3 separate regions of the Homo sapiens genome follow, and all the other regions are reported to be linked to region 1. The links are microRNA targets in miRTarBase. Many come from high-throughput screens and were not tested one by one. Region 1 holds a microRNA gene; each other region holds the end of a gene's coding sequence.
The links. The annotated mature microRNA hsa-miR-1206 reads UGUUCAUGUAGAUGUUUAAGC and lies in region 1 at 5,934-5,954, opposite strand. An mRNA with a match to its seed (bases 2 to 7 or 8) in the 3' UTR can be bound and repressed. Matches are read on the target gene's strand: a 7mer-m8 pairs with bases 2 to 8, a 7mer-A1 pairs with bases 2 to 7 and ends in A, and an 8mer does both.

Region 1 (10,871 bases):
AGGGCACAAGACTCTGAGAGTACAAAGCACTCCAGAAATAAGCCAGTTGCATTTGTCATTAGCTTTCCTGTCCACATTCCCTTTTCTTAGTCAGGTTCAGTCCATCTAGAACTTCAATTTCAATGGAAACAGAGGAAATGAATGTGGTAGCAGACATCACTAAGCACTCTCAAAGCTTTCTTGTTACTTTGAAATGGTCTAAAAAGCCCATTCTTTCTACCCACTGGGTCCCCACCTTCCCCGCCAAGTCTGTGTTCTCTGTTCGGTTCATTATCAGCACCGCCCACGGCCAGACACGGCCAGGCGGCTTCACAGAAGCCAAAGAGCTTATCAGAAATAAGTACTTTATTTGACAGTGAGGCCAGATGTGCAGAGAGAGGCATTTCAAGGCCTTCACTTCTCTTCTCATAATTAGTCAGCTTCTAGCAATGATGAGAGTCTGAAGATATCGCAAAATAATGAATGACCTTCTCAAGCAGCTCCAATGAGGGAGCGTTGTTTCAGCACCCATCACAGGATTCTAGAATGTGAGCATTGAGGGAGACCCTCAAAATACTGGCTAACCCCCCTTGTAGAGATGAGGATAAATCCACAGAGAAAAGCTATGTCGTCTGTCTGGCCACTCTCTGTGTATCCACTGTGCACCTGCCATGTGTCAGGCAGTGACCTAAACCCTGGGAGGGAATAAATGCAAAAAAGACACATTCCCTCACCTTGACGAAACAGAGCTTCGTGAGAGACACTGACCCATTTATCTCAGGCCCATACATGTTTATTGCAGGGCCTACTAACACTTGGGTCCCCACTGCTCACCAGAACAACAGCTATTACAGCAGCTACAATGGTCCAAACCTATCCTCATATACGTGTCTATAGTTCCCAGAAATCTGTAAAGATTTCTGTAAAGGTCTTTTGTGACTCCAGGATTTAACACAGCATCTCAGGATGTGATGTTTAAGCTAAATTGAGTCAAAAAAATAACTTTTTGTTCATTTTGGTCCAGCGTGATTCATTCATTAATTCATTTGACAAGGCACATTTCCTAGCCCCAATGATTAGGACTTACTGTTGAGGGATAGAGAGATAAGTAATCACAGTAAGTCCCAGGACACTATATGTGGAAGGGAAAGAAAGAATGCAGGTGACACAACTAACTCTGTCAGGAGAGTCTCCCCCACAGCAAGGTACGAATAAGGACCATTTGTTCTAGTCTCCGTAGCATCCTAGCCTATTTCCACTTCCTCTTGTCATCATCTGTCCTCTTCAAAGTTCAAATGGCTCAAGAGGCAGAGATTGTGTCTCTCTTGTCCATTCCTCAGCATTCAGCAAGTGTTCAATAAACATTTGTGGAATGAATATATCAGGTTAGGGACACAAAAACACATTACAATTCCATAATAGAAATAGAAAGTGATGATATGCTTACACATAGGAAGAAGTGGCTAACTCTGCCAGGGGGAAAAAAAAACAGGAAAAATATCTTACATACATTTATACACTCACACACATGCAGCTATTACAATGATAACAACACCATTAAGCAAGACTTATTTGTGGAACCCTAACTATTCAACAGGCATAATCCCAAGAGTTAATGCTCACAACAGACTTATAAGGAAACTAGTATTATTATCCCCATGTTACAGAGGAGATGGAAACAGAGGCACAGGGAAGGGGGGGTGGCCTTTCTGAGGTCACAGAGCTAGTAAAAACAAGAGTTGCAGTATAAATCCACATGGCACCCCCATAGACTATGACCTCAAATCAGGATGGCTTCAGGGAAGAAGGAATGAAATCATTTCTACAAAACCAAAAGCAATCGGCACAGAGCTAGCAGGCCCTGGGAACATAGCAGGCCCCTTCATGCCTCATTCCAATAACCCATGAACCTGAATGTGCAAACCTGCCCCACACCAACAAAAATTTGGTGATTCTCAACCATCTAAAGAGATTTTTTAAAACACCAAAGCCCAGATCCCTCTCTAGATCAATTAAATCTTAATCTCTGGAGTACGGTGGGAGTGGGGTGGATATTAGTAGATTTTGCAAGCCCCTAGGTGACTATGGTATACAGCCAGGACTAGGAACTCCTAGAGTGACTTGTTTACAAGGTACAAAACAGGACTCTGGCAGGAGGAGCAGCCGAGAAATTGCTGAGGATCAGCAAGAGTGCAAGAAAGAATGAGTTGACTGTTTGACTACTGTTTCCCTAGATTAATTATTCATGTGACTCGAAACAGGGTCTCCATCAACTCTGCAAGAACTCCTTGCACACCCAACAGGGCCAACGTTGGCTCACATTCATTTGAAGAGGGTGCCCAACTGTCTGCAACCCTAATGCTCTGCCCAAGAAGAGTTGAAAACCTTGCTAAACTCACTCAACTCTTGAAGCCTCCATTTTCTCATTTGCAAAATGAGAACAATAAAAGCTGGTTCTAAGGGCATTTGTGAGCATTAAAGGGGATATTGATGTTGATGAATTTACCAAAATGCAAAACAAACAGAAAAACATCAGCCTCAGAGAAAATATTATTTCCACCTTGGAAAAGACTGAGTAGAGTAAAGAGTACAGTAGAGACCCAGGTCCAAGCCTGGCTTGGCCTTTCCTAGCAAGTCTAGAAATGACTCTGCCCATGTATTCCTCTTCTGCCAACCAAGGTACCACAATAGCTCCTTCATGCATCCCCCTCATTCAGCAAATGTGTATTGAATGTCAACTCTAATGTTTTGATATAAATCATGGGAGCTAATGTACTCACAAAAATGCTTTGGAAATTTTAATGTGCTCCACAAATAAGAGGGAATCGTTTCTGTTTGTAATGATTCACTGTGAGCTCACAAGTCCCAAAGACTAAGTGACCTTATGGGGTCGCATCACAGTGCAATGCTTGGATCCTTTCAGCCCCACCCCCTCTCAGTAGTAATACAGTCCCTGTGTGGATATCTCCAGTGATGAGATCCCAACCACTGTCAGAGACAGAGCATTCTCTCAGGTTCCTTTTCCTTTTATTAAGTTGCTTTCTGTTTGCCTACTGTTTCTACCTTTCCATTTTGGTTCTGATCTTTGGGGCCACAAGAAGTATATTTGACCTCTTCTCAGCCTTTCACTAATTGAATATCACCACCATCAAGGTCCAGTCTCTACCTCCTAACTCCTCTCCACATCTTCTCTCTGTGAAGCTAAGACGGCCCTAGTTTCCTTGTATTTCTCCATTTGGAAGGCAATAATAGACTGCACCAGACTGGGTGGCTTAAATAATAGAAAATTCATTTTCTTACAGTTCTGAAGACTACAAGTGCAAGATCAAGGTGCTAGTATGGTCTGTTCTGATGAGGGCCCTCTCCTTGCATTGTGGATGGCTCCCTTCTCATTGTGTCCTCACGTAGCAGAGAGAGAAGAGAGACAGTAAGCTCTCTGAGGTCTCTTATTTTGAGGGCACTAATTTCATCACGAGAGCCCCACCCTCATAATCTCATTTAACCTGAATTATCTCCCAAAGGTCCACTTCTTAATACTGAGTACATGGGGGTAGGTTTCATCATATACGTTTGGAAGAAGGAAAACAGTTCAGTCCATAACACTCCCCCACAAAAGATTATCTTGCTAAACAGAAGCAAATCTGATTGAGACATTGACTAAGTACCCACCATGCTTACAAAACATGACTCGTATATGCTGAGGAAATCAATTTGATTGCCCTACCATCAAGACACATATAGTCTAAAGATTGTTGCCATCTACATTTTAGAGGTCCCCGCACCTTAAGACAGAATGAGCCAGAGGCCTGGGTAAATTTGGAATTTACAAATAGAGTCAAAGAAGTCAAGGCAAGAGAAAAACATAGCCCCACCCTTTCATTAGATTTTATTCTAGAGATTAAGACTCCTAAACCAAAATCACAAAATCTCAACCCATTCACTGTTGACTGATTGCCTTCTTTGGACCATGCTGCAGAAATCACAGCAGCAATAAACACGGCAGGCAAATGTGTCAACCCCTGGGGAACTTTAACTTGTTTTCTGCTGTTGTAGTGAGATCAAGTGTGTGTGATTCAACAAGACGGGACATGTGAAACTTCCCTGTACCCCTCAAGCCCAGCACAGAGCCTCATCCAGAGTAGATGCTCAATGATGACACCTTATAAAACAACAAATAATAGCCAAGACCTCTCCTAAGTCTGCTGAGGGGTAGCCACATGGCTTCTTAAAAGTCAGAGGCCATTTGCTATTAAAGAAAGCCATGAGCTTTGCGCAGTGGCAGTATCGTAGCCAATGAGGTTTCACCGAGGTGCGATTATTGCTAATAGAAAGCCACAGATGGTCCTGGAGACCAGAGCCATCAAAACCCTTGTTCTTGTGCGGAAAAGAAGGCAAACCAGGGACCGAACTTGGCTTTTGAAGATGACTCACCACCAAAATCCCAGGTCTTGATGACAGGTTAAATCTTGTAAAACTTTAATTTGGCGAAGAAGTTGGCTGCTGTATTACTCTGTCACATGTCTTGGGAGAGGTCCAGTTTCTGTCACCCTAGCATTAACTGAAAAGCGGGATGAAATATGAAGACATTTTGCAGTTTATAAGAGAAAAGCACCAGGGAGTTTTAACAATTTGGAGAAGTATCATCCTAAAATTGGACTCTAATGGTCACTGAAACCATTGCTGCATTCAGTAAAACTGGGTTGCCTAAAGCTACTGCCATGGAGAATCTAAAACAAGACATAAAGAGGCAGGAATCAGTCACATAGAGGCTTGATGTACAATATGTCCAATGAAGCTTCCACCGGAGAACTGAAAAGCAGTATCTCAGCAGAATTGCAACTTCTGATTTTAGGTTCTTGTCAATCTATTCTAACTCTTAGCAAAAGATTCTTGCTGTTCAGCCTCAGAAACACTTTTATCTTAGTCGACTTTCCTGAAATCATGCTGTATTGAGCTATGATTCTTACTCAAATGTAGTTCCTATGTCAGAATCTCATCAATGAGAAATTTCGCAAGATTGCGTGCCAAAATATCCAGTACCACACTTGCATATTTTTACTTCAAACAGAATTAACACTGCATCTTAGACACAGCGTGGTTTACCCTGCTAGTCATCTCAAACACTGAAGACGGTGACTGTACTACATGATTATTTACCTGCTCAGCTCAGGTTCCCATTGTTCACATTCACATCAAGACAGATCAGCACTGGCACAACCACTGCTTTTATTGGGTATATCAAGTGTTAACAGATCCTTCAATGTGTTTCTCAAAATCTCTGTTGGCCTATGGTAAAGAAAAATAAAATCTATTTTGAAAACTCACAGAGCTCTAGTTAAAGGTTCATTTAATACCACCTATATGTCTTTAATGTCTTTAGACAGAAAAAAAAAAAGCTTTACAGTTCAATTAATGTTTCCCCTTTGGGTGCAATTTAACAGGGAGGGCTTCAGAAAAAGAATGAAAGAGGGCTATTAAACACATTTCTTATATAAAGATACTTGTTCTTATGCAGGACATATAGAATAGGACTTTTTTGTAGCAAATATTTTAAACAAGAGATATTTTGTTATGTGATGCTTTTTTAGCTGCAGCTAAAACAATTTTTAGTCGTGGAAATTCTGAAAAGCTTGTCATTTCTTTTATTATACTTACTAGAATATGATTACTTTTGTTGAAGGACAATATTTTCCCCTCTTTTCCTTACCCTGTGGCCCCCAAAAATGTTTCTGCTAATGATATAAGCAGATTTCTAATACTTTATCTGCTTTTAATCTATGAAAATTAATATTTGGATACTTCATAATTATCTTGATTATGTCACTTGATAAAACAGTGATAGGTATTAATGTTAGTTCAGCCATATATTTATACTGCCTGGGAATAGGTGGCTGCAATTGTGTGGCGAGCATAATTTGGCAGCGTTCACTAGCTTGCAAAAACCTACTGCAAGAGCTTAAACATCTACATGAACACTGATATGAAAAAAGCATGTAAGCCTGACCATAGCTTCTAGTTCCTAGATGGACCTGGCTGTGTTTTTCAGGCCCCAACCTGCAGGGAGCCCCTTCAATCTCATCAGCTGAGTGGGCAGAATAAAGACATCATGCCTGCACATGCTTAGCATTGTGCCCAGCATGGTCAGGGATTGATAAAAACACTTGTGTATTCTCTTTTTATTATCATCACCACCATTATAATCATTACTGAGAGATGCATCCGTAGAGACATCATGTCAGAGAGAAGCAGAGGAACCCAGAAGGCAGCAATGAAACTAACATTTAGAAGCAACACAGGTGATGGGGCAGCCCAGAAAGCTGAAGACAGAAACCATTTCGGAGAATTAGCTGCAAAAGAAGTAGGGAACAGGCATGAGAAGGGGACAGTTCTTTCTGGAGCTAACTCAGTGAACACACCAGAGCCTGTGGGAACATACATTTTTGCATCAGTTTCCTCATTGATAAATTGGAAGAAAGGTACATGGTAGAGAAGGTTACATTAGTCGATATTTGTAACAAGTCAGGGCACATAACAGGCCCTCACTCAAGAGAAGACACTTTTGTTCTCACATCTCCCTTCTTAAATTAAGGAGCATCTGCCCTGTATACAATCCTGCACAAAAATAAATCCACGTAAACAAAATTTCACAGTAACTACAAAAGCCTAATGATCATTAAAAATTCCTGGGAGAAACAGATGACCGTTCACTAATTAATCGGGTTTAGATAAATCAAGCACCACTTAAAGAATCACTGCTCCTTAAAGAGGTAAATGCAACGATTGTCACATGGCCAATTTCTAATTTTTCATTTCTCTGGGGAGACCAAAATGATACAATCTTAGTAATAAATTTCTCCCTAAAGTTTCTGAGGACAAACAATTTCCAGCCTCCTCAGACAAAGGTAAGATGAGTCAACTAGCATTACTGTCAACAAGTATGAAATGTAGGCCACCTTTGTGTCTACAACTAACATACTTTGTTAAGGATCAGATGTAGGACAGTGGTTTGTGGAGTGAAAATTAGGTGGGTGTCCACTGGGCAAGACATTGCACAGCACTGCCTGTGCTGGAAAATGCAAAAGAGAATAAGCTGGATGGGAGTACATCAAACCTAAACCTACACGTGTAGAATCACACTCATGCATACAACCCACATTCTTACTGTTTTCCCATTATCAGGAGACATCAAAAAGTAAAAGGTGTCTCATACCTTCCAAACACATTTCCCAGAAATGTCTGTTAACAGGAAGTACATACCCTTCACAGAATTTCTCCCATGTGTAGATAAATATGTATGTGCACTATATTGTTCTGTCTTGCTCCTACAAAAATGGGCCAATTCTATACAAATGGTACTACAACTTATCTTTTCCAATTGATTGTGGACACCATCCCATATTAGTACATATAAATCTATCTCATGGTTTGTATTTAGGTTTTTTTTTTTTAGTTTTTATTTTAAAATAATTTCAGATGTACAAAGTAAGAGTTTAAAAAACTGAGAAATTCCATTTAGCCTTGCAACTTCTCAATTTTGACATCTTATATACACAGTACAATTATTTAACTGTGTCAGGAAATTAACTTTAGTACAATACTATTGCCCAATCTAGCAATTTAATACAATATTATTGCTTAGTTGCTCAATCTAGAGACGATATTCAAATTTCATCAGTAACACTTTTTTCCAATGCAGAACGCAGCCCGCAGTCATGCGTTGCAGTTACAGTTGGAGCGTGTCCCTTCGTCTCTTTTAATCTGAACTCATTCCTCAGTCATTCTTTGTCTTTCATTTTTAAAGAGTGCTGATCAGTTGTTAACTAGAATGTCACTCCATTTGTGTTTGCCTGATATTTCCTCCTTGTTAAATTCAGGTTATAGTTCTGTCAAGGATAGCACAGCAGCAATGGCTGATTCCAGGGCTGGACCAGGCAAAGTGTACACTGAGCCTAGAATATCTTGTGGGGTCAAAAGGTAAGGCAGTGCTCAAAAAACAACAGTAAAATGGCAAAAATACATAGAACCCAACTTGAAGGGCATCCCAATGTAAAATCTAGAAAAATCTGAGCACAAAATGTATTATAGTCATGGGTTATAACCAATATAATGAGAATCCAAGAGTCCAGACTGATTTTTAAAAAATTGCATTTTTTCAATATAAAAGAAAATATCTTCCTTATAGTAACATTTTAATTGACAAATGTAGGAGTAATGATGGAAGTAGAAAATCACTGTTTGGCACACACTGTAGTAATAACTGTTTCAGACAAGAATTATCCACGAATGCTAAAATTAGTTTGGTGAAAGTGTGATGAGAAACAAGATACTTACATAGGTCCAAAGCATCTCCTGACAAGATACTTATTCATTACACAGAAAAAAAAATAGAAACTTTACAGTAGAGAAATCTGGCAGACATCACCTTAATCAAGTGATGGAAGTAAACATCATTAGTAATGTGACAAGCCAACACCAGGTGCCTCCTGATCTGAGGCACTGAGAAGGACACAGCATCTCATTCTTTATAGTGGCAACTGAGCATTGTACTGTTGACCAGCTAGGCTGTCTTCAAGGTTCTGATACATTACTAATGCTGTTGAATAAATATCTTTTGAAACTTCCCTCACTATTTCTAGGGTACAGACTCCGAGAAGTGGGATTGCTGGGCCAAAGGGTGCATATACTCTAAACTTGGAGAAGTCCTGCCCAAATTTCCCTTATCTTTTTATTATTATTATTATTATTATTATTATTATTATTATTATTATTATTTGAGACAAGGTCTCACTCTGTCACTGAGGCTGGAGTGCAGTGGCGCAATCTCAGCTCACTGCAACCTCTGCCTCCCAGGTTCAAGTGATTCTCCTTATTCAGCCCCCTGAGTAGCTGGGACTACAGGCGCGCACTACCACATCTGGCTAATTTTTGTATTTTTGGTAGAGATGGGGTTTCACCTTGTTGGCTGCTTGGCCTCGAACTCCTGACCTCAAGTAATCTGCCTGCCTTGGCCTCCCAAAGTGCTGGCATTGCGGGTGTGAGCCACCACACCTGGCCTTGAAACGTCTTTTAGAGCTGTTGGTCCTGTTCATCACCCTCCACCTTTCAGCAGCAGTGTGTGAGAGTACCCACTTTCTTTGCTAGCACTCAGCACTACAAGCCACCAGAATGCTGAAAGCTGGGGCAAAGGAAGCCATATGTGGCTGTGTCAGCAGCTGGGCAGATGCAGGGAGTACAGCAGGAGCCAGACAAACCGAGAGTACTGGATGCATCCGGATGCAGAGGGATGTTCTGAGGTTTAACTAAGTCAGGGCTCCAGGACACACTGCAGTCAGCAGAAGGTACATGTACAAAAGATAGCAGGGGAAAGACGACAAGACTAGGGCATATCTGTTGGATGCTATTTGAGAGGTTTGCTATTTAGAAATGACCTAAGAGCTTAAACTTGCACCAAGCCCCACCTGGCCCAGTCTCCATCCTTCAGTCACAGCTCCTTAAAAGTCTAAGACAGGGGTGTCCAATCTTTTGGCTTCCCTGGGCCACATTGGAAGAAGAAGAATTGTCTTGGGCCACACATAAAATACACTAACACTAACGATAGCTGATGAGCTTCAAAAACAAATAACAAAAAAATCTCACAAGCTTGGTCTAAGACAATACAAATGTAGTAGTGAGGTTTCCCAGTCAAACTTATTAGTGATAGTTGCCAACCTTTGTGTTGTAACTTTTTTTTTTTTTGAGATGGAGTTTTGTTCTTGTTGCCCAGGCTGGAGTGCAATGGTGTGATCTCCGCTCACTGCAACCTCCACCTCCCAGGTTCAAGCGATTCTCCTGCCTCAGCCTCCCGAGTAGCTGGGATTACAGTCATGTGCCACCATGCCTGGCTAATTTTGTATTTTTAGTAGAGACGGGGTTTCTCCATGTTAGTCAGGTTGGTCTTGAACTCCCAACCTCAAGTGATCTGCCCTCCTCCACCTCCCAAAGTGCTGGGATTACAGGCGTGAGCCACTGTGCCCAGCCTGTGTTGTATTTTATAATCAATTTCATGTCACTTTATGTGGACTTCGCAACAACATAGAGAAAGGCATTGTTACATTTACAGGTAACAAAGACTGGAAAATCAGAGAGGGAAAGTAACTTGTTCAGGGCTGCACAGCTGCAAAGTGAGGCAGGTAATTGGTATTCGAAAGGCTACTTCAGTGGTATCTGGAGACTAGTCTATCTCCTGGCCCAGGCTTCTCCCTGTAGCAGGACCACTGTTGTCCTAACGCCACAAATACATTATCTCATTTCATCTCTACAGCCATCTGATGAGATGGGTACTACTGTTAGCTCCATTTTACAAATAGGAAAACGGAGATTGTGCCCCGGGCTTTGCTACCAGTAATGGGTGGGCTCAGGACTCTCTCGGCAGAGAGGGAAGTGAGGGGACAAGGCAGACCCAGCTCAACCCCACCTCCAGGATGAGCAAATGTAGAGAAAGGTGAAGAAGTGCTGGCACCTGAATAAAGCCCTCCCTTCTCCCCCACCCAATAAACCCAGTAAATCCATAGTTCTTGATTACCTACTGTATACAAACTGGCTGGATTACAAGGACCTGCTTTACAGACTAATGTTCATTATAATTCACAAGAGTCAAGGGGATCTTATTGTACAATGAAATACAGTAGTTGCGGCCTGCTGTGGACTGAAAGGTGCCAGCATCCATTCTGCATTCATATGTTGAAGTCCCAACCCCTAAGGTGACTTTATTGGAGATAGAAACCTTATGGAGGTTGGTAAGGTTAAACGAGGTCCTAAGGGTGAAGTCCTAATCTGAAAGGATATGTGTCCTTATAAGAAGAAACACCAGAGAACCCTCTCTGCTCCTACAACCATGTAAGGACACAGAAGAA
Region 2 (10,871 bases), not on the chromosome of region 1:
AAAAACTTTTAGCTTGCTTCACATTATAAAAATAGCCCAGAACAATGAAACTTTCCCCCAGTAATACACACAGGAGAAGGGGTTCATGCTTACAAGCTGCCATATGAATGTACTCAAGTTGTCTCTTCTAAAAATATGCCTTGTATGGATCCAGTAAAGTCTGTCATTCTAGAAATGTATCAGAACTAGATCAATCAGAGTTAACAAAGGAAACAAAGAAGATGAAGTAGAAAAGCAACAATCTGTGGAAATCTACTACTTTTAAAGTTTTTTTGGTACTTCAATTATGCATGTGTGTTTTTGTGTGTCTGAATGTGTATAAAATCCAATGGAGGCCTGACACGGTGGCTCACGCCTGTAATCCCAGCACTTTGGGAGACTGAGGCGGGTGGATCATGAGGTCAGGATATCGAGACCATCCTGGCCAACATGGTGAAGCCCCCACTCTACTAAAAATACAAAAAGTAGCTGGGCGTGGTGGTGGTGGTGCATACCTGTAGTCCCAGCTACTTGGGAGTCTGAGGCAGGAGACTCGCTTGAACCCGGGAGGCGGAGATTGCAGTGAGCCGAGATCGCGCCACTGCACTCCAGCCTGGGCGACAGAGCAAGACTCCCTCTCACAAAAAGAAAAAAAGAATCCAACAATATTTTAAATATTGTTACATATAGCCAATATTCATTCAGATTCACCATGTATCTACCATTTTCATTCCTCTTCATTCCTCCCTGTACAAACTTCAATCTAGATTTGTTTTTTCTCTACCTAAAGAATACCTTTTAGTATTTTCTATAATGCAGATCTGTTGATGGTGAATTCTTTTAATTACTGTTTGTCTGAACATGTCTCTATTTTGCCTTCATTCTGGAAGGATCTTTTTGCTCCATATAGAATTCGCCATTGACAATTCTTTTTCTTTAGCACTGTAAAGATATTCCATTGTCTCCATTGTCTACTGGCTTCCATTATTTTTGTTGAGATGTAAACTGTGAGTTCCATTGTTGCTTATTTGGAGATAATATGTATTTTGTTCTAGAGGCTTTTTTTTTTTAATGGAGTTTCTCTATTGTCGCCCAGTCTAGAGTGTGATGGAATGATCTTGGCTCACTGCAACGATCTTGGCTCACTGCAACGATCTTGGCTCACTGCAACCTCCGCCTCCCGGGTTCAAGTGATTCTCCTGCCTCAGCCCCCCGAGTAGCTGGGATTACAGGTTCCTGCCACCATGCCCAGCTAATTTTTGCATTTTTAGTAGAGATGGGGTTTCACCATGTTGGCCAGACTGGTCTCAAACTCCTGACCTCAGGTAATCCACCCACCTCGGCCTCCCAAAGTGCTGGGATTACAGGCAGGAGCCACCACACCCAGCCTGTTCTAGAGGCTTTTAACGATATTTTTTCCTGTTTAGTTTACAAGATGTCTTTGATTTATAGCAGTTTAATTCTCATCTGCCTCAGTGAGGATTTCTTTTTGTTTATTTTTCCTGTTTGGGGCTAGGCCTTCTTGAAACTGTCTTATTATCCTTCTTCAGTTTGGGAAAATTCTTAGCCATTACCTCCTCAAGTATTAACTTCTGCCCTATTATCTCCCTCTCTTCCTCCTCCTAGGATTCAAATTATGTGTCTGTTAGCCCCTCTCAATGTATCCTATGTGTCTCTTACCCTCTCCTCCATATTGACCATCTTTTTGTCTCTATGTTCACTCTGTGGAGTCTCTTCTAAAGCTCTAATTAGAGAATCCAGTTCCTGAATTCTTTCTTAATCCATGTCTATTCAACTGGAAAGCTCATTGCATTCTTGATTTCAGTGGTGTATATTTTAATTCTACAATTCTCATAGACCTTTTTTAATTAATTAATTATTATTATTATTATTATTTATTTTTTTTTTTTTTAGAGACAGAGTCTCACTCTGTTGTCCAGGCTGGAGTGCAGTCTTGTGATCATAGCTCACTGCAACCTCTAACTCCTGGGCTCAAGATCCTCCTGCCTCAGCCTCCTGAGTAGTTGGGACTACAGGCACGCATCACCACACTAGGCTATTTTTTTTTAAATTTCTGTAGAAACGGGGTCTCATTTTGTTGCCCAGACTGGTCTGAAACTCCTGGCCTCAAGTGATCCTCCCTGTCTCAGCCTCCCAAAGTACTGAGATTACAGGCATGAGCCACCATGCCTGGCTTCATGGATCTTTTAAAAACAGATTCTAGTTTCCTATCAAAATTCTCAAGCTGTCTTTAATCTTCTTAATTATTGTAAGCATAGTCTTTGTAAAGTCTATATGTATGACTCTATATGAGAAGCCCTGGTGCATCCTTTTTTAAGATCTGATATTTTGCTAGTGCTTATACAAGCTATCTGGTCTCCTCATGACCACCACCCCCCTTTTTTAAATTGAATGCTTTTATTTGCAAAATTGTGAAAGTAATTCAAGACCTTAATCCAGTTTTAGGGACTCAGATGAGTCAATCTGAGCTTCAGACCTTGAAAGGCCTGTTGGCTTGTGGTTCACTGTCTCCTCTAAGGGACAGTGCTTTGGGGTCACAACTCAAAAGAATGGGGCTCACCAGAGAACACCCTCCCTTGGTGTATCCTGAACTCCATTACCTGTTCCCTATGCTCTTAACACTATCAAAAGCCCACTTGGTTTCCCAACTGCTCCACTTTGGAATGTTCAAGTGCCTTCAGGAGAAAACAGGCCCCCAACACCAGCTTCACCTCTCTGGGCCATCATCTTTTCCTGATCCAACCCAGGAAGTGTGTGTGTGTGTGTGTGTGTGTGTGTGTGTGTGTGTGTGTGTGTGACGGAGTTTCACTCTGTCGCCCAGGCTGGAGTGAAGTGGCATGATCTCGGTTCACTGCAGCCTCCGCCTCCCGGGTTCAAGCGATTCTCTTGCCTCAGCCTCCTGAGTAGCTGGGATTATAGGCGCCTGCCACCACACCTGGCTAATTTTTGTATTTTTAGTAGGGACAGGGTTTCACCATGCTGGCCAGGCTGGTCTCAGAGTAAAGTGGCACGATCTTGGCTCACTGCAACCTTCGTCCCCCGGACTCAAACGATTCTCCTGCCTCAGCCTCCTGAGTAGCTGGGATTATAGGGGCCCACCACCACACCTGGCTAAGTTTTGTATTTTTAGTAGAGATGGGGTTTTGCCATGGTAGCCAGGCTGGTCTCAAACTCCTGACCTCAGGTGATCCACGCGCCTTGGCCTCCCAAAGTGCTGGGATTACAGGCATGAGCCACCGCGCCTGGCCTTTTTACTATCTTATTTGCTGTCCAGTACTATAAGAAAAAAAGTTTAAACATTTTGTCCAGAGTTTTTAAATTTATTTGTTTGCTTATATTTTTGTTCAGAGTTTTTAGTTGTCCTCAGAAGGAGGGTTGGTCCAAATTACCTAGTCTACTACATCTAGAAAGGACATTGGAAATTGACTTTTTTTTTTTTTTTTTGAGACGGAGTCTCACTCTGTGGCCCAGGCTGGATCGCCCAGTGGCACGATCTCGGCTCGCTGCAACATCTGCCTCCTGGGTTCAAGTGATTCTAGTGTTTCAGCCTCCCAAGTAGCTGGGATTACAGGTGCCCGCCACCACGCATGGCTAATTTTTTTTTTTTATTTTTAGTGGAGACGGGGTTTCCCCATGTTGGCCAGGCTGGTCTTGAACTCCTGACCTCAAATGATCCACCCACCTTGGTGTCCCAAAGTGCTGGGATTACAGGCATGAGCCACTGTGCCCAGCCACCAAGCATCCTTTTAGGGGCTGGGGACTCAGTGATAAACACACTGTGCCTGCTTCTTGGAACTCACAGTCTCACTCTGATCCATGTTTAGTCCTGTCCTGTATGATAATAGCAGTTGTCCATTGAGCTCATAAAATCTAAGACCGCGCTGGGCTTGTGAGCCACCTGCAGAGCCTAGCTTGGTGCTGAAAGCTAAGTGGGTGCTCTGTCATTACTGGGGTTCGATTGACTGGTTCTAACAGAGACCAGCTATAGAGCTAACACTTGATGGAATATTTTGAATATTGATGACCTTTTCACTGGCTTCTGCCTATGGCAAGTAGAGGTACAACCCAAAGAGAAGAGCCTCATTTATAGTGTGTGGCTGGGGGAGAGGGAGGTTTGCAAACTGAGTCATTTTCCCCCATTCAGCCTGTGTGTGTCTGTGTGAGTTCATACCTGTGTGTGTGCATAAAATCAAACAAGAATAAAATGTTTTCATTTGTTCCCTTCCTTCTTCCTCTCTCTGTCTCTCCCTGTTTCCACAGGTCAGCGTTGAAGTTTTGGTAGAGTATCCTTTTTTTGTGTTTGGACAGGGCTGGTCATCCTGCTGTCCGGAGAGAACCAGCCAGCTCTTTGATTTGCCGTGTTCCAAACTCTCAGTTGGGGATGTCTGCATCTCGCTTACCCTCAAGAACCTGAAGAACGGCTCTGTTAAAAAGGGCCAGCCCGTGGATCCCGCCAGCGTCCTGCTGAAGCACTCAAAGGCCGACGGCCTGGCGGGCAGCAGACACAGGTATGCCGAGCAGGAAAACGGAATCAACCAGGGGAGTGCCCAGATGCTCTCTGAGAATGGCGAACTGAAGTTTCCAGAGAAAATGGGATTGCCTGCAGCGCCCTTCCTCACCAAAATAGAACCCAGCAAGCCCGCGGCAACGAGGAAGAGGAGGTGGTCGGCGCCAGAGAGCCGCAAACTGGAGAAGTCAGAAGACGAACCACCTTTGACTCTTCCTAAGCCTTCTCTAATTCCTCAGGAGGTTAAGATTTGCATTGAAGGCCGGTCTAATGTAGGCAAGTAGAGGCAGCGTGGGGGAAAGGAAACGTGGCTCTCCCTTATCATTTGTATCCAGATTACTGTACTGTAGGCTAAAATAACACAGTATTTACATGTTATCTTCTTAATTTTAGGTTTCTGTTCTAACCTTGTCATTAGAGTTACAGCAGGTGTGTCGCAGGAGACTGGTGCATATGCTTTTTCCACGAGTGTCTGTCAGTGAGCGGGCGGGAGGAAGGGCACAGCAGGAGCGGTCAGGGCTCCAGGCATCCCCGGGGAAGAAAGGAACGGGGCTTCACAGTGCCTGCCTTCTCTAGCGGCACAGAAGCAGCCGGGGGCGCTGACTCCCGCTAGTGTCAGGAGAAAAGTCCCGTGGGAAGGGTCCTGCAGGGGTGCAGGGTTGCACGCATGTGGGGGTGCACAGGCGCTGTGGCGGCGAGTGAGGGTCTCTTTTTCTCTGCCTCCCTCTGCCTCACTCTCTTGCTATCGGCATGGGCCGGGGGGGTTCAGAGCAGTGTCCTCCTGGGGTTCCCACGTGCAAAATCAACATCAGGAACCCAGCTTCAGGGCATCGCGGAGACGCGTCAGATGGCAGATTTGGAAAGTTAACCATTTAAAAGAACATTTTTCTCTCCAACATATTTTACAATAAAAGCAACTTTTAATTGTATAGATATATATTTCCCCCTATGGGGCCTGACTGCACTGATATATATTTTTTTTAAAGAGCAACTGCCACATGCGGGATTTCATTTCTGCTTTTTACTAGTGCAGCGATGTCACCAGGGTGTTGTGGTGGACAGGGAAGCCCCTGCTGTCATGGCCCCACATGGGGTAAGGGGGGTTGGGGGTGGGGGAGAGGGAGAGAGCGAACACCCACGCTGGTTTCTGTGCAGTGTTAGGAAAACCAATCAGGTTATTGCATTGACTTCACTCCCAAGAGGTAGATGCAAACTGCCCTTCAGTGAGAGCAACAGAAGCTCTTCACGTTGAGTTTGCGAAATCTTTTTGTCTTTGAACTCTAGTACTGTTTATAGTTCATGACTATGGACAACTCGGGTGCCACTTTTTTTTTTTTTCAGATTCCAGTGTGACATGAGGAATTAGATTTTGAAGATGAGCATATATTACTATCTTTAAGCATTTAAAAATACTGTTCACACTTTATTACCAAGCATCTTGGTCTCTCATTCAACAAGTACTGTATCTCACTTTAAACTCTTTGGGGAAAAAACAAAAACAAAAAAAACTAAGTTGCTTTCTTTTTTTCAACACTGTAACTACATTTCAGCTCTGCAGAATTGCTGAAGAGCAAGATATTGAAAGTTTCAATGTGGTTTAAAGGGATGAATGTGAATTATGAACTAGTATGTGACAATAAATGACCACCAAGTACTACCTGACGGGAGGCACTTTTCACTTTGATGTCTGAGAATCAGTTCAAGGCATATGCAGAGTTGGCAGAGAAACTGAGAGAAAAGGGATGGAGAAGAGAATACTCATTTTTGTCCAGTGTTTTTCTTTTTAAGATGAACTTTTAAAGAACCTTGCGATTTGCACATATTGAGTTTATAACTTGTGTGATATTCCTGCAGTTTTTATCCAATAACATTGTGGGAAAGGTTTGGGGGACTGAACGAGCATAAATAAATGTAGCAAAATTTCTTTCTAACCTGCCTAAACTCTAGGCCATTTTATAAGGTTATGTTCCTTTGAAAATTCATTTTGGTCTTTTTACCACATCTGTCACAAAAAGCCAGGTCTTAGCGGGCTCTTAGAAACTCTGAGAATTTTCTTCAGATTCATTGAGAGAGTTTTCCATAAAGACATTTATATATGTGAGCAAGATTTTTTTTAAACAATTACTTTATTATTGTTGTTATTAATGTTATTTTCAGAATGGCTTTTTTTTTTCTATTCAAAATCAAATCGAGATTTAATGTTTGGTACAAACCCAGAAAGGGTATTTCATAGTTTTTAAACCTTTCATTCCCAGAGATCCGAAATATCATTTGTGGGTTTTGAATGCATCTTTAAAGTGCTTTAAAAAAAAGTTTTATAAGTAGGGAGAAATTTTTAAATATTCTTACTTGGATGGCTGCAACTAAACTGAACAAATACCTGACTTTTCTTTTACCCCATTGAAAATAGTACTTTCTTCGTTTCACAAATTAAAAAAAAAATCTGGTATCAACCCACATTTTGGCTGTCTAGTATTCATTTACATTTAGGGTTCACCAGGACTAATGATTTTTATAAACCGTTTTCTGGGGTGTACCAAAAACATTTGAATAGGTTTAGAATAGCTAGAATAGTTCCTTGACTTTCCTCGAATTTCATTACCCTCTCAGCATGCTTGCAGAGAGCTGGGTGGGCTCATTCTTGCAGTCATACTGCTTATTTAGTGCTGTATTTTTTAAACGTTTCTGTTCAGAGAACTTGCTTAATCTTCCATATATTCTGCTCAGGGCACTTGCAATTATTAGGTTTTGTTTTTCTTTTTGTTTTTTAGCCTTTGATGGTAAGAGGAATACGGGCTGCCACATAGACTTTGTTCTCATTAATATCACTATTTACAACTCATGTGGACTCAGAAAAACACACACCACCTTTTGGCTTACTTCGAGTATTGAATTGACTGGATCCACTAAACCAACACTAAGATGGGAAAACACACATGGTTTGGAGCAATAGGAACATCATCATAATTTTTGTGGTTCTATTTCAGGTATAGGAATTATAAAATAATTGGTTCTTTCTAAACACTTGTCCCATTTCATTCTCTTGCTTTTTTAGCATGTGCAATACTTTCTGTGCCAATAGAGTCTGACCAGTGTGCTATATAGTTAAAGCTCATTCCCTTTTGGCTTTTTCCTTGTTTGGTTGATCTTCCCCATTCTGGCCAGAGCAGGGCTGGAGGGAAGGAGCCAGGAGGGAGAGAGCCTCCCACCTTTCCCCTGCTGCGGATGCTGAGTGCTGGGGCGGGGAGCCTTCAGGAGCCCCGTGCGTCTGCCGCCACGTTGCAGAAAGAGCCAGCCAAGGAGACCCGGGGGAGGAACCGCAGTGTCCCCTGTCACCACACGGAATAGTGAATGTGGAGTGTGGAGAGGAAGGAGGCAGATTCATTTCTAAGACGCACTCTGGAGCCATGTAGCCTGGAGTCAACCCATTTTCCACGGTCTTTTCTGCAAGTGGGCAGGCCCCTCCTCGGGGTCTGTGTCCTTGAGACTTGGAGCCCTGCCTCTGAGCCTGGACGGGAAGTGTGGCCTGTTGTGTGTGTGCGTTCTGAGCGTGTTGGCCAGTGGCTGTGGAGGGGACCACCTGCCACCCACGGTCACCACTCCCTTGTGGCAGCTTTCTCTTCAAATAGGAAGAACGCACAGAGGGCAGGAGCCTCCTGTTTGCAGACGTTGGCGGGCCCCGAGGCTCCCAGAGCAGCCTCTGTCACCGCTTCTGTGTAGCAAACATTAACGATGACAGGGGTAGAAATTCTTCGGTGCCGTTCAGCTTACAAGGATCAGCCATGTGCCTCTGTACTATGTCCACTTTGCAATATTTACCGACAGCCGTCTTTTGTTCTTTCTTTCCTGTTTTCCATTTTTAAACTAGTAACAGCAGGCCTTTTGCGTTTACAATGGAACACAATCACCAAGAAATTAGTCAGGGCGAAAAGAAAAAAATAATACTATTAATAAGAAACCAACAAACAAGAACCTCTCTTTCTAGGGATTTCTAAATATATAAAATGACTGTTCCTTAGAATGTTTAACTTAAGAATTATTTCAGTTTGTCTGGGCCACACTGGGGCAGAGGGGGGAGGGAGGGATACAGAGATGGATGCCACTTACCTCAGATCTTTTAAAGTGGAAATCCAAATTGAATTTTCATTTGGACTTTCAGGATAATTTTCTATGTTGGTCAACTTTTCGTTTTCCCTAACTCACCCAGTTTAGTTTGGGATGATTTGATTTCTGTTGTTGTTGATCCCATTTCTAACTTGGAATTGTGAGCCTCTATGTTTTCTGTTAGGTGAGTGTGTTGGGTTTTTTCCCCCCACCAGGAAGTGGCAGCATCCCTCCTTCTCCCCTAAAGGGACTCTGCGGAACCTTTCACACCTCTTTCTCAGGGACGGGGCAGGTGTGTGTGTGGTACACTGACGTGTCCAGAAGCAGCACTTTGACTGCTCTGGAGTAGGGTTGTACAATTTCAAGGAATGTTTGGATTTCCTGCATCTTGTGGATTACTCCTTAGATACCGCATAGATTGCAATATAATGCTGCATGTTCAAGATGAACAGTAGCTCCTAGTAATCATAAAATCCACTCTTTGCACAGTTTGATCTTTACTGAAATATGTTGCCAAAATTTATTTTTGTTGTTGTAGCTCTGGATTTTGTTTTGTTTTGTTTTTTAAGGAAACGATTGACAATACCCTTTAACATCTGTGACTACTAAGGAAACCTATTTCTTTCATAGAGAGAAAAATCTCCAATGCTTTTGAAGACACTAATACCGTGCTATTTCAGATATGGGTGAGGAAGCAGAGCTCTCGGTACCGAAGGCCGGGCTTCTTGAGCTGTGTTGGTTGTCATGGCTACTGTTTCATGAACCACAAGCAGCTCAACAGACTGGTCTGTTGCCTTCTGAAACCCTTTGCACTTCAATTTGCACCAGGTGAAAACAGGGCCAGCAGACTCCATGGCCCAATTCGGTTTCTTCGGTGGTGATGTGAAAGGAGAGAATTACACTTTTTTTTTTTTTAAGTGGCGTGGAGGCCTTTGCTTCCACATTTGTTTTTAACCCAGAATTTCTGAAATAGAGAATTTAAGAACACATCAAGTAATAAATATACAGAGAATATACTTTTTTATAAAGCACATGCATCTGCTATTGTGTTGGGTTGGTTTCCTCTCTTTTCCACGGACAGTGTTGTGTTTCTGGCATAGGGAAACTCCAAACAACTTGCACACCTCTACTCCGGAGCTGAGATTTCTTTTACATAGATGACCTCGCTTCAAATACGTTACCTTACTGATGATAGGATCTTTTCTTGTAGCACTATACCTTGTGGGAATTTTTTTTTAAATGTACACCTGATTTGAGAAGCTGAAGAAAACAAAATTTTGAAGCACTCACTTTGAGGAGTACAGGTAATGTTTTAAAAAATTGCACAAAAGAAAAATGAATGTCGAAATGATTCATTCAGTGTTTGAAAGATATGGCTCTGTTGAAACAATGAGTTTCATACTTTGTTTGTAAAAAAAAAAAAGCAGAGAAGGGTTGAAAGTTACATGTTTTTTTGTATATAGAAATTTGTCATGTCTAAATGATCAGATTTGTATGGTTATGGCCTGGAAGAATTACTACGTAAAAGGCTCTTAAACTATACCTATGCTTATTGTTATTTTTGTTACATATAGCCCTCGTCTGAGGGAGGGGAACTCGGTATTCTGCGATTTGAGAATACTGTTCATTCCTATGCTGAAAGTACTTCTCTGAGCTCCCTTCTTAGTCTAAACTCTTAAGCCATTGCAACTTCTTTTTCTTCAGAGATGATGTTTGACATTTTCAGCACTTCCTGTTCCTATAAACCCAAAGAATATAATCTTGAACACGAAGTGTTTGTAACAAGGGATCCAGGCTACCAATCAAACAGGACTCATTATGGGGACAAAAAAAAAAATTATTTCACCTTCTTTCCCCCCACACCTCATTTAAATGGGGGGAGTAAAAACATGATTTCAATGTAAATGCCTCATTTTATTTTAGTTTTATTTTGATTTTTATTTAATATAAAGAGGCCAGAATAAATACGGAGCATCTTCTCAGAATAGTATTCCTGTCCAAAAATCAAGCCGGACAGTGGAAACTGGACAGCTGTGGGGATATTAAGCACCCCCACTTACAATTCTTAAATTCAGAATCTCGTCCCCTCCCTTCTCGTTGAAGGCAACTGTTCTGGTAGCTAACTTTCTCCTGTGTAATGGCGGGAGGGAACACCGGCTTCAGTTTTTCATGTCCCCATGACTTGCATACAAATGGTTCAACTGTATTAAAATTAAGTGCATTTGGCCAATAGGTAGTATCTATACAATAACAACAATCT
Region 3 (10,871 bases), not on the chromosome of region 1:
GGCCACTCTATAGAGGTCATATTTGGAATTCTCTATCCCGAGAACAGAGTCAGAGAGAGTGGACCAACATGTTACCACAGAAGATTTGTGGCCTCCTGGAAATACTATTGAAATGAGAGGCAAGAGGCTTGCTTCTAGACTTCCTTAACTCATTTCCTCTGTAACCTTGGGAAAATTGCCTTCTTTTCTGGGGCTCTTATAGTTAGTTACGTGACAAGATTATTCTAAAGAAGGAGTTGGGAAACATTTTTGGTAAAGGCCTAGAGTAAATACTTTAGGCTTCAGAAATGGTCTCCACAAGAGCTCTCACAGATGATATGTAAACAAATGGGAATGGTTGTGTTCCAATAAAACTTTATTTACAAAAGCAGGTAATGGGCAGGAATTGGCCCATAGGCTGAAGTTTGATGATCCCTGGAATTAAGTCCCAGCCCATATATTTTATGTCTCTCGCTCAAGGTTAGGAGGTTCAAGAGTGAAACTGGGGAAGCTCAGGGGTGTTGTCCTGTGAATTGTGTTTCTGTGACAGTCCCCTCTTCTGGCATAGGCTAGGGATTTTAAGACTGGAGGCAGGGGTAAGAGGGAGTCAAAATGAGATGACTTAGATAAGTCATAAATTCTCCGTGTGGGAGTGAGTTTGGTTAGTTAATGACTATGTGTGAATTTGTGAGGGTACATATATGCAGGAAATGTTAAAAGCATGCGTATGTGAAGTGTCAGAGTGAAGGGCTGTTTGTGTAAACTGTAAAAATGTCCGTATGTAAATCTTCATTAAAATTTGTGAGAGTGAATATGTGGGATGGTGAGTGTATGAATGAACATGTGTGAAATATGCACCTGAATGGAAGAGTGTGTGTGTGTGTGTGTGTGTGTGTATTTTCAGCTGGCAGAGCTGGAATTTGACCCAGGTAGGTCTGATTTGAAAGCTCTTATTTTTCCTATGTTCACTGTCTTACATGTTTTAGAAGTTGTGGCATAAATAGGAGAATTGGAGCAGAGTGGGGTGGAAGCCCAAGAAAGGCGGTTTAGGTAATCAATATAACAAAATGGAAGTTTTAAATACTGATGGGAGCTTTGCTAGCTACTAACAAGTTGTTTGACTTTGGGCAAATTATCTGTCAGTTTCTTTGTGAATAAACTAGTGATAATTTCAATTTCACAGATTTGATGTGAAGATTAGAAATAATAATTATATATGATATGCAGTAGGTATTTAATGGTTGCTATTATAAAGCTAGGAAGTATTAGTAACAGAAATTGAAGATTATGAATGATAAGAAATGAAAAGTGACATTAGATTGGGCAATAGTCATGTGACAGATCATGACTATTTAGAGAAAGAAACTTTTGTGGCATGTTGGGGCTATCAGTACCATGGCAGTGGGTGAAGATCAAGAGGGAGGTGAGAGGATTACTGAAGAGAGAGCACATCCTTCCTTTTGTGACACTGAGGTGAAGGGGAGACAGGACACCCGAACATATTTGCTCAGTAAGAACGAGGAACAAAGAGAGAGGGAGAGGTTAAAATTACTGGAGAGAGACCAACTAATGGGGAGAGGTACTCAGAAAAAAAGAAGGGTTGGGCGTCAGTGCACAGATGGAGGGCTTAGCCTCCAGCAGGAGGAAGAGGAAAAGGACAACTTGAGTACAAATAAATTTGTAGGTGGCAGAGTAAAGGCGGTGGAATTTAAGGGAATTTATAACTGCCGACTTTGTTTTTCTCCTTGAACCAGCAGTCAGGAAATCACCATCACCCGATGAATGGGATCGAGTGGCATAGGGCAGACATGAAGTGATTAAAACCTGGTCTGGAAAGGCAAATTCCAGCTCCATCATTTGCTAGCCCAGCGACCTTGGGTAGGGGTGCTACTTAAATTCTCAGAGCTCTGTGTGCTCCCCTATCAGCAAAACGGGGGAAATGACAACAGTTATCTCAGGCTGCGGTGACTGTAATAATGCACATAAAGCCTGCAGCACAGTACCCCTCCTAAATGATCCCTGTCTCATTCTCCAGTCTCCTCCGTTCCCCATCCATCTTACACAATACTGCCGGAGAGAAAGCTACCTAAAATGTAAATTTACCATGCCATTCTCTCACTACAGATCCTTCAGTGACTCTCACTACTTCAACATCAATCTAAAGCCCTTAGAGTAGGACTCAAATCTCTCAATGATTTGGCCCCTACTTCAGTCCCTTGTATTATTTTCTACAATTTTATTATCCCTCTCATGTCCTCTTTGCACTAACCCTGCATCATTATAATTTTCCTCCAAACCCTATGTCTTTTCAGATCTCTATGACTTCATTCAAGTTCTTCCCTCATCATGTTTCTTTACTTGGCGAACTCTTATTTATTCTTCAAGGCAGCACTCTAGCAAGTCTTTTCCGAATGCCTAGGGAGTTCTTCCTCTTTCCACAGCTCCCTGTGCTTAGCTTTTCTTCTACAGTGTGCATATTAGATAGGTAGCCATGTTGCTTGATTGTCTGACTGTCCCAAGTAGGTCTTCAAGAAACCATGCCTGGCACGTACTCAGTAAGGCGTATTAAATTGATAGGTAACTCAGTTGCCACTTTCCTTTTGAGATTCACATCACATTCTGGTGTTCAAAGTGGAAATTGAAGTGCTTGTTATTCGCAGCTTGTAAGCATTTACAACAACCTGAGACTGAGATCTATGGAATTCTAGAGCCAAAAATTTCTCTTTTACGAATAATGTAATCCATTCTGTCCCTAACTTTAGTTTTAAGGTGATAAAAGAGACATCCAGAACAGGGAAGTAATTTTATTGAGATCACATAGTTCATGAATAGAATGGCAAAGAATTTTAGACCACATCCCCTGACTTCTTCAACAGGACCCTTTTCACTGCTCCATCCAGTGAAAAATAATCTGTTCCCTCCTTCCCTACTCCAACCCCATTCAGCTTCTTGGGAAGAGAGAAGAGGTAACTGCCAAATCCTACATACCAATGCTCAGGTGACCTTCCCTGGGCATGACAACCCACAACTCCACTGGTAGCAGCCACTCACTCTTCATTCTGCTGAGCATTCCTGGCTTAGAAGACCAGCACACATGGATGTCTCTCCCCTTCTTTATTTCCTACCTTGTTGCTTTCCTTGGGAACAGCCTCATCATCTTCATCATCATCACTGAATGCAGCCTCCACGAACCCATGTACCTTTTCCTCTGCATGCTGGCTGTGGCTGACCTTATCCTGTCTACTACCACTGTGCCCAAGGCCCTAGCCATATTTTGGTTCTATGCTGGAGCAATATCCCTTGGTGGCTGTGTTACCCAAATCTTCTTTATCCATGCTACCTTCATCGAGGAATCAGGAATTCTGTTGGCGATGGCACTTGACCGCTATGTGGCCATCTGTGATCCACTGCACTATACCACAGTGCTCAGTCGTGCAAAAATCACAAAGATTGGCTTGGCTGTGGTCCTGAGAAGCTTCTGTGTGATCATGCCAGATGTGTTTCTGGTAAAGCGGCTGCCTTTCTGCCATAGCAATCTGCTGCCACATACCTACTGTGAGCACATGGCTGTTGCCAAGTTTGCTTGTGCTGATATTCATGTCAATGTTTGGTATGGCTTGTCTGTCCTTCTCTATACTGTAGTGCTAGATGCCTTGCTTATCTTAGTGTCCTATAGCTTCATCCTGTATACAGGCTTCCACCTCCCCTCCCCAAGGAGCTCGGCAAAAGGCTCTGGGCACATGTGGCTCCCACCTCAGAGTCATTTCCATGTTCTACTTGCCTGGTATTTTTACCATAATTACCCAGCGGTTTGGGCACCATGTTCCTCTCCATACACACATTCTGCTGGCTAATGTCTGCGTGTTGGCTCCTCCCATGCTGAACCCCATCATTTATGGGATCAACACCAGGCAGATTCAAGAGTGTGTGCTCAGTCTTTTGTCCTCACAGAGGAAATGATGCTAGATTTGACTAATCTGATAGTATGTTTATCACTATAGGGCTTTGCTTTTTTTTTTTTTTTTTTTTTTTTTTTTTTTTTTTTTTGCCTACTTTGCAGAGACCTACGAATTAAGATTCCACTGACTATGGATAAAGTGACTGATCATGACTTTGAAAATCAGATTGTCATGTGACCTTGAAAAGTATAGTGTTTAGGGAAGAACATAAGCTTTGGATCAGGATTAGGTTTGAATCCTGGCTTCCTTTATAACAGTGTGTTTGACCTTGGGTAAGTTACTTATTCTCTTAGAGACTCTTCCTGGCACATCCTTAGGGTGCCAGAAAAAGGACTATCAAAACAGAAATAACCAAATTAAACCATAAGAAAACTTTACTTACTAGGGCATTACAGTTAAAACACTTAGATAGACTCTATCTTCATGTAATTAAGATTACATTAAGATTACTCTATCTTAATGTAATGTAATGTAATCAAATGATATATTTGATATCATTTGAAATATATTATTTTAAATTAGATATGGGAGGATATCATAATCATTGCATTTCTTGATTGTCTTGATTGTACATTTATCATAGGCCTATGATAAAAATAAATAAAATAAAGTATGAACAGGACCTTGAATATACATGAGACAAAATAAGCAGTGGATACATTTTAAATTTTCTTTCTTTTCTGCTTTACTGACTTTATCTTTAAAATTGTAGTATAATATCTGTTTTTCCTAATTCAAAAGGAAGTTGTAGAATCAAAAGAGATTAGAAAATTCAACTAGTTTGTTTGAATTTTAAAGGGCAATATTAATGAGAATTAGAATTAGTGCTGATAGAGTCTTTCCTCATTTCTCAGGAGAACTTTTATGTGACATGCAAAGGTATACCTGGATTACTTGTTAGTGACTATTGGTGGGGGTAAAAGTTGAGATTCTATGAAATCTCTACTACTTGGTTTATTTTGGTGGAGACCAAGGGAAGTATATCATCTATATAATGTATATCTCCAAGTATAAAGGTAACCTGATATCCCAAGGTATTCAGATTTTGAGAACTGAGATTATTTAGGTTGATATCATTCTGACAGTCTCCTCTCATCAGTATATCAATGAAAGGGAGCAAACCATCATTTATACTGGTTAGCTCGAAGGCAGAAACATAGAGAAGCAGAAAAGCTGATTTTATAATCTACCCTTCTTTTTCTTCATATTTCTCCATGAACCTAGCAAATACAAGCCCACCATTCCCCAGTACATCTCATTTGCATAAGCATGAATTCTCTTCCATATTCCTGCTCCAGTTTATTACCCAAGGAACTGGTCGACTTTGTCATTTATCTTGATTTAGTTGTCATCTGAGGATTTAAGACCTGGGTCTTTTCTGTTCTTTTTATCTTTTCTTCATAGGATTCTTTTCTGTCCTATGTTAAAAGATAGACCATTACTCATCCTTAGAAGCAACTCTTTGATCAATAAAGTCTTTTCAAAGTCACTGACTTCTTTGTACAGTAACTAAATTTTTCATGAAATATTTAGTGGAAATGGTGCTGAGGGCAACCTGAGATTCTATTTTAGATAAGGAATCAGAGTTCCTGGAATGCTAGGGCTCTCTCACAGTCTACTGTGATTCAAGTTTAGAGCTTTATTGTTCCAACCTTAAAAACTTAAAGTATGCTGTCACCAGGTGATGCTGTTACCTCAGTCCTGGCTTTCATATCAATCAGGGTTCAACTGGAGAAGCAGAAAGAGTAGTAGATATATATTAAGAGATTTATTGCAAGGAATTCACTTGCACAACTGTGGGGGCTGGGAAAGCAAGTCGTATATCCATAGGGCAGGCAGATGGAAGGTAGGCTGGAACTCTCAGGCATGAGTTAAAGCTGTTATTCATAGGTGGAATATAATCTTCAGGGAAGCTTCAGTTCTGCTTTTAAGGCCTGATTGAATTAGGCCCACCCAGATTACATAGGATAATCTCCTTTACTTAAAGTCAAATAATTATGCACTTCAATCATATCTACAAAATACCTTCACAGCAACATCTAGGTTAGTTTGAATAACTAGGGGCTTATAGCTAGCCACCAAGGTGGCATATCAAAAGACCACCACACCTATTTAGATTGATATTCCTAACCCCATGTTCTCTTCTAGGAGTTGTATGGTTTCAGGTCTTAGATTTAAGTCTCAACTCATTTTGAGCAAAAATTCTTGAAGAACTTTTTAACTTTCTTGTGCACACCATCTCAGGCAAGGTGTCTCCAAAGTTTACTCCATACATTTTTACTAAGCATCTGCTAAATTCAGATGAATCTCCAACAAATAATTGAATACTATGGTAATTAATATAATCTATTTAAATATTAAAATATAAATCCCACAACATTAAGGTAGTTGCAAACATCTCTAAACTCCCTCACCCCTGCTTCTAGTTCCATATCATTATGTCCTCTTTGGAAAGAATAAGGGGATGCCCTTTCCTTCACCTTTAGGGATACAAGGAGAATGTTGATGAATATCATGTGGCAAGTATGGGGGATGTTGAGTGAAAACACATGGATGAGAAGAAGAAGATATAAGGGTCAAGTAACCAGTGAGATCTTCCATAGACTTTGGATTAAAATATAGTTGCAATCTGAGCTGTAAGACTTTAGTTCATCTCTGCTTGGGAAGTGTTAGTTTAGTTAGGAACTTAGACAGGAAGATACAAGATGGGGCTCCTGGGGAAAGGAAGTAAGAATAGACTGTTGGGCCAACAGGAAAACTTCCCAATGTAGGGGAGAAGACTGGCGTGTAGGGCCTTCCACAATCTACCACAAGCGCATATGGAGCTGACATCTCCCATGTCATTATCTCTTGGGTACCTAAGGTTGGGTGTGGTGGCTGTCAGCACAGCACAGACTCCTAAGCAGTGAGGAATTATAGAAATGACACTCACATTTTAGCAGAATTCAGGCCCCTCCCATAATCCTAATCTTGTGGCCTTTCTTTAGGTTTTGGACCCTGAGCAAGGAGGGGGTTAGTTTTAAGAAAGGACTATTATCATCCTTGCTTCCAAGTTAAACTAGAAACTAAATTCCTCCCATGTTTAGCTTGACCTATGCCCAGGAATGAATGAAGACAGCCATCCTGTGAGGCTAGAAGCAAGTCGGAGTCAGCCACATTAGATTTCTCTGTCATAATCTTTACAAAGGTGAGTTTTCTTCAATTTTTTAGATTCAGGGATATATGTGCAAGTTTGTTACCTGGGTATACTGCATGATACTGAGGTTTGGGTATGAATGATCCTGTCACCCTGGTACTGAGCATAGTACCCAGCAGTTAGTTTTTCAACTTTTGCTCTCCTCCCTTCCTCCCTCGTCTAGTAGACCCCACTTTGTTGCCATCTTTATGTCCATGAGTACCCTGTGTTTGGCTCCCACTTATAAGAGAGAACATGTGGTATTTGGTTTTCTCTTCCTGCATTAGTTTGCTAGGATAAAGGCGATTTCAAAAATTTATTTGCATTTTGTTTTAACATAGTTATGACCCACCTTCTGAAATTATACAATTTGGTGTAACTGTCTTCACTGAATATGTCATGGGCATCTCCCCCATGTTATTAATAATTTTATTTTGAAATGGCTGTGTAGTCTTCCATTGACTAGATGGACAGTAGTGCTAATTGTTGATCACTAATGCTATAACCAATTTTCACTGTTATTCATTGAAGAATATCTTTATGCATAGGGCTATTTCCCAATGTCAAGTTATTTCCTTAGGATAGATTCCCAGAGGTGGGATTATTAAATTAAATAATATGGAAATCTCTGAGGCCTTTATTACATATTGACAAAATGATTCCAGAAATGTTTGCATCCATTTACATCACAACCAGCAAGGATAAATGTGTCCATCTTGCCAGTATTGAGTATTATCATCTGACTAAATATTTGCTAATGTGATAATGAAAGAGTAGTGACCCACACTCCCCTGGGCAGGCACTAACTCCCTCTAGCTCCTTCCACACCTTAACCTCCCCACCTGCGGTCCCTCACCAGGCTTGGACAATTCCTGCAAGAGACTTAGGGAGACCAGCTCCACAGGCTTCTATGCTTTGACCTTTACCCCCATGGTGGGACCTTGACAGGATCTACTGGTAGCCCTCTGAGATCTAGGTCAAAGTTGAGGCCAAGAACAAGGTGGGTTGAGAGCCAGGGATGTGTCATGTGCGCATGCACGTGTCTGTGTGTGTGTTGGGGAGTAGTTCAAAGGAAGAGGGGTTAGGGTGGGTGGAATGAGGCAGAATCATCCAGGGCTGAGAAGTCTAAATCTGGAAGGAAAGGGATGGGAACAGGGAGAATGGCTTTTTCTGTCAGAGAGAGCCGAGGGGGAAGTGGCAACAATGAGAGATGCTCTGAGTTTGAAAGAAGGTAGGAGAAGAAAGTTGCCACGACCCACTTATGGGGACACTCTAGAGGGAGTCTATGTCTCATCCTTTACTTCGACACCTGAGACCACCCCCACGCTCCTGGATCTGTCTGCAGAAGCTGTCAGATGCTGGGCCCTTCCCTTCCCAGAGACGCATCTTTGACCCTGCTACAGCTCCTGCTCCTCTTCTGTCTGTCTGTCTTCCCATCCCAAAGCCCCAGCCCTGGGGCACAGGCCTGAGCTGCACATGTTAGAGAGGGCTTGTTAGTGGCTGTGTCCAGGAACTTAGACAGCTCCTTTGTTTGGCTTTCTTTCCATATCCTTTCAACCTCTTCTTTCCTCGTCCAAACCATTCAAGTAGGAGGCGTGGGGCCCGGGGCAGGAGTTTTAGGGGAGGTAGCCTGGTCATAGAGACAGGAAGAAGATGAAGCCATGCTTCACTTACTCTTTGCTGCTGTGTTCTCTTCTTACCTCCACACAAAGTCTCTCCTCACCTTGCCTGAAAGGATACCTCATCGTCTGCAGTGGAAGCTTCTGGAAGACAAGATGGTCCCTTTCTTCCTAATACTCATGGCCTCACCTGCCGAATGTGAGCACATGCTGACACAGACACACATTTCTTCAGGCTCCAAATCCCTTCCTCATGATTGGGGATGTGGTCACACCCACAGCACACACCCCCTTTTTCTTTATCCCTTAGCGGATGTAACATTTACTCTTCTGGAAAAGTCCGAAAACTTTGCCCAAGAAAGGTGCATTCCAGAGAGAAATAACATTAAAACTGGATATTCCAAGGGGCACAGGAATTGGCCAGTTGTCTAGAACACTGAAAGCATAGGGAAGCCCCAGAGAGCTCCAAGAACTTTGATGTTGTCACTCGTCACTTACTGAGAACATGGACAGAAGGTGCTTCAGGTCTGTGAGGGTCAGAGATGCAGAGGTCACAGAGCTACTCCAGCCCCAGGAGAACTTTGTATTTCAAAAGCAGGTGTTCCCTCATGGTAAGGAGGTAATATCCCCTCGGACAGCGATCAGAGCCCAAATGGCCTTCTATCACCACAGCGGCTATGATGGGGAAGGCAATGATGGGGAAGTACAGAAGACTTGACTTGACCTGGGTCTTCAGTCCAAGATCAAACATTTCAAATGGGACAGTCTAGGCATGAAAAGCACGTGCAGTGTTAAAGACACATCACTATTAATCATATTCAGAGTTCTCAAGTATTTCAGGATTAAGGAACAAGGACTGAATGGGATAGACGGAGGCACAGTTTTTTAAATTTTATTTTTTATTTTTAGGAAGCCCTTTTGCAAACCATACAAGATATAATAGAGATCTCACCAAAGACGACATCCTAGAGATGGAGAGGAGAAAAAAAAAACTTAAGTCCCATAAAGAAGGCAGAAACATGTTTTTGGTTGATCAAGATGAGTTTGGGCCAAATATAAGGAGGCTGCTTCACTGGAGGGAATCACAAAGCCATCTGGGGCAGGAATGTTGATGGTGAAGTGACTTCCCTGCTAAAGCTCGCTTGCTGGGATCCGGATGCCTCTGCAGAGACAAAGGTGGTTCAGAGTTCATGGGGAAAAGAGGCAGGGTTTGTGGCTGAGAAGCGGTGCCAATGGGGAGAGTGGCAGTGTCCAGAGAAAGCCATCAATAGTCAGTGGATCCTTGTGATCCAATATTCAGTGGACAGAGGGTTAGAGGGGCTGTGTTTTTTCCTCCATCATTGAAACCAGGACTGAAGAAGGGCCGCAGAGGTCCTGTAAAGGCACATTCAGAGAAGGAGTAGATGAGGGAGCCATGGTCAGTGATGTTGTAGAAGGAGACCATGCCAGCCTCATAGTCCAGGAAAATCCCAACTTGGCATGGAGGCACCTGAAGGTGGAGGGGAGTCTGGGGGTAGGTGCCAGCCTCATATTTTTGTTTGTTCCACAACCAAATTGTCCAGAAGCCACTCTTGGAACTAAGCAAAAAGTGCCCCTTCCTGCGCACAGAGTCTCTGCAGACACCCAGGTCCCAGGCCTCCTTTCCTGTCACATCTACCTCCCAGTAATGTTTTCCAGAGTGAAAGTGCTGGGCACCCAGGACCATAGGATAACTATCAAATCTCTCTTCATTTCCAGGTATGCTCTGCTGGGTGTCTCCAAGCCTCACTTGTCTCCGATCTTCTGAAAGTATCAGCCACGGATTGGCTGTGTCTGGATCCAGAGTGATGTGGACTGCAGAGAGAGGACCACAGTCAGGCCTTGCATGGGGGGAGTTCACTAAGTCTGTGCCTGTGGTGGGGGGATTTTGTGTAAACTCCAGGGTAAGCATGAGGGGTGAACCTCCCTGTGTGAGGAAATGACCATCAGCCAGTTCTGGCCTTGGTCCTGACCTCTGAAGAAACCATCTTCCTTACCTCCATCTCTGTTCCCCCTGCTCTGACCTGCCATCTCTCCTCCAAGTTGCCATCCAGGCTCCCTGACCCTGGGATCTACTCTGCACCCCATTATCCCCCGCAAAACTAGAACTTGCCTCACCTG

Region 2: miRTarBase lists ATXN1 as a target of hsa-miR-1206. Seed matches in the 3' UTR shown: 7mer-A1 at 9,056-9,062 and 7mer-m8 at 9,369-9,375.
Region 3: the mRNA of TRIM21 is a reported target of hsa-miR-1206. Seed matches in the 3' UTR shown: 7mer-m8 at 9,919-9,925.

The regions. Positions count from the first base shown.
Region 1 is chr8:128,003,984-128,014,854 of GRCh38, reverse strand. MIR1206 (microRNA 1206) reads right to left here and starts at 5,957; the gene lies at 5,899-5,957. It overlaps PVT1 (Pvt1 oncogene), which reads right to left. Exons shown (of 9, transcript NR_190187.1): 5 at 5,137-5,265; 6 at 4,411-4,537. It also overlaps the pseudogene RNU4-25P.
Region 2 is chr6:16,300,249-16,311,119 of GRCh38, reverse strand. It overlaps ATXN1 (ataxin 1), which reads left to right. Exons shown (of 8, transcript NM_001128164.2): 8 at 4,261-10,871. The coding sequence ends at 4,791. Among named protein-coding and RNA genes, the nearest start is that of GMPR, 67 kb to the right of the region's middle. RefSeq lists a silencer at 992-1,200 and enhancers at 5,421-5,540, 7,449-8,028.
Region 3 is chr11:4,375,289-4,386,159 of GRCh38, forward strand. It overlaps TRIM21 (tripartite motif containing 21), which reads right to left. Exons shown (of 7, transcript NM_003141.4): 6 at 10,869-10,871; 7 at 9,609-10,565. The coding sequence ends at 9,997. It also overlaps the pseudogene OR52B3P. Among named protein-coding and RNA genes, the nearest start is that of OR52B4, 12 kb to the left of the region's middle. RefSeq lists an enhancer at 10,377-10,871.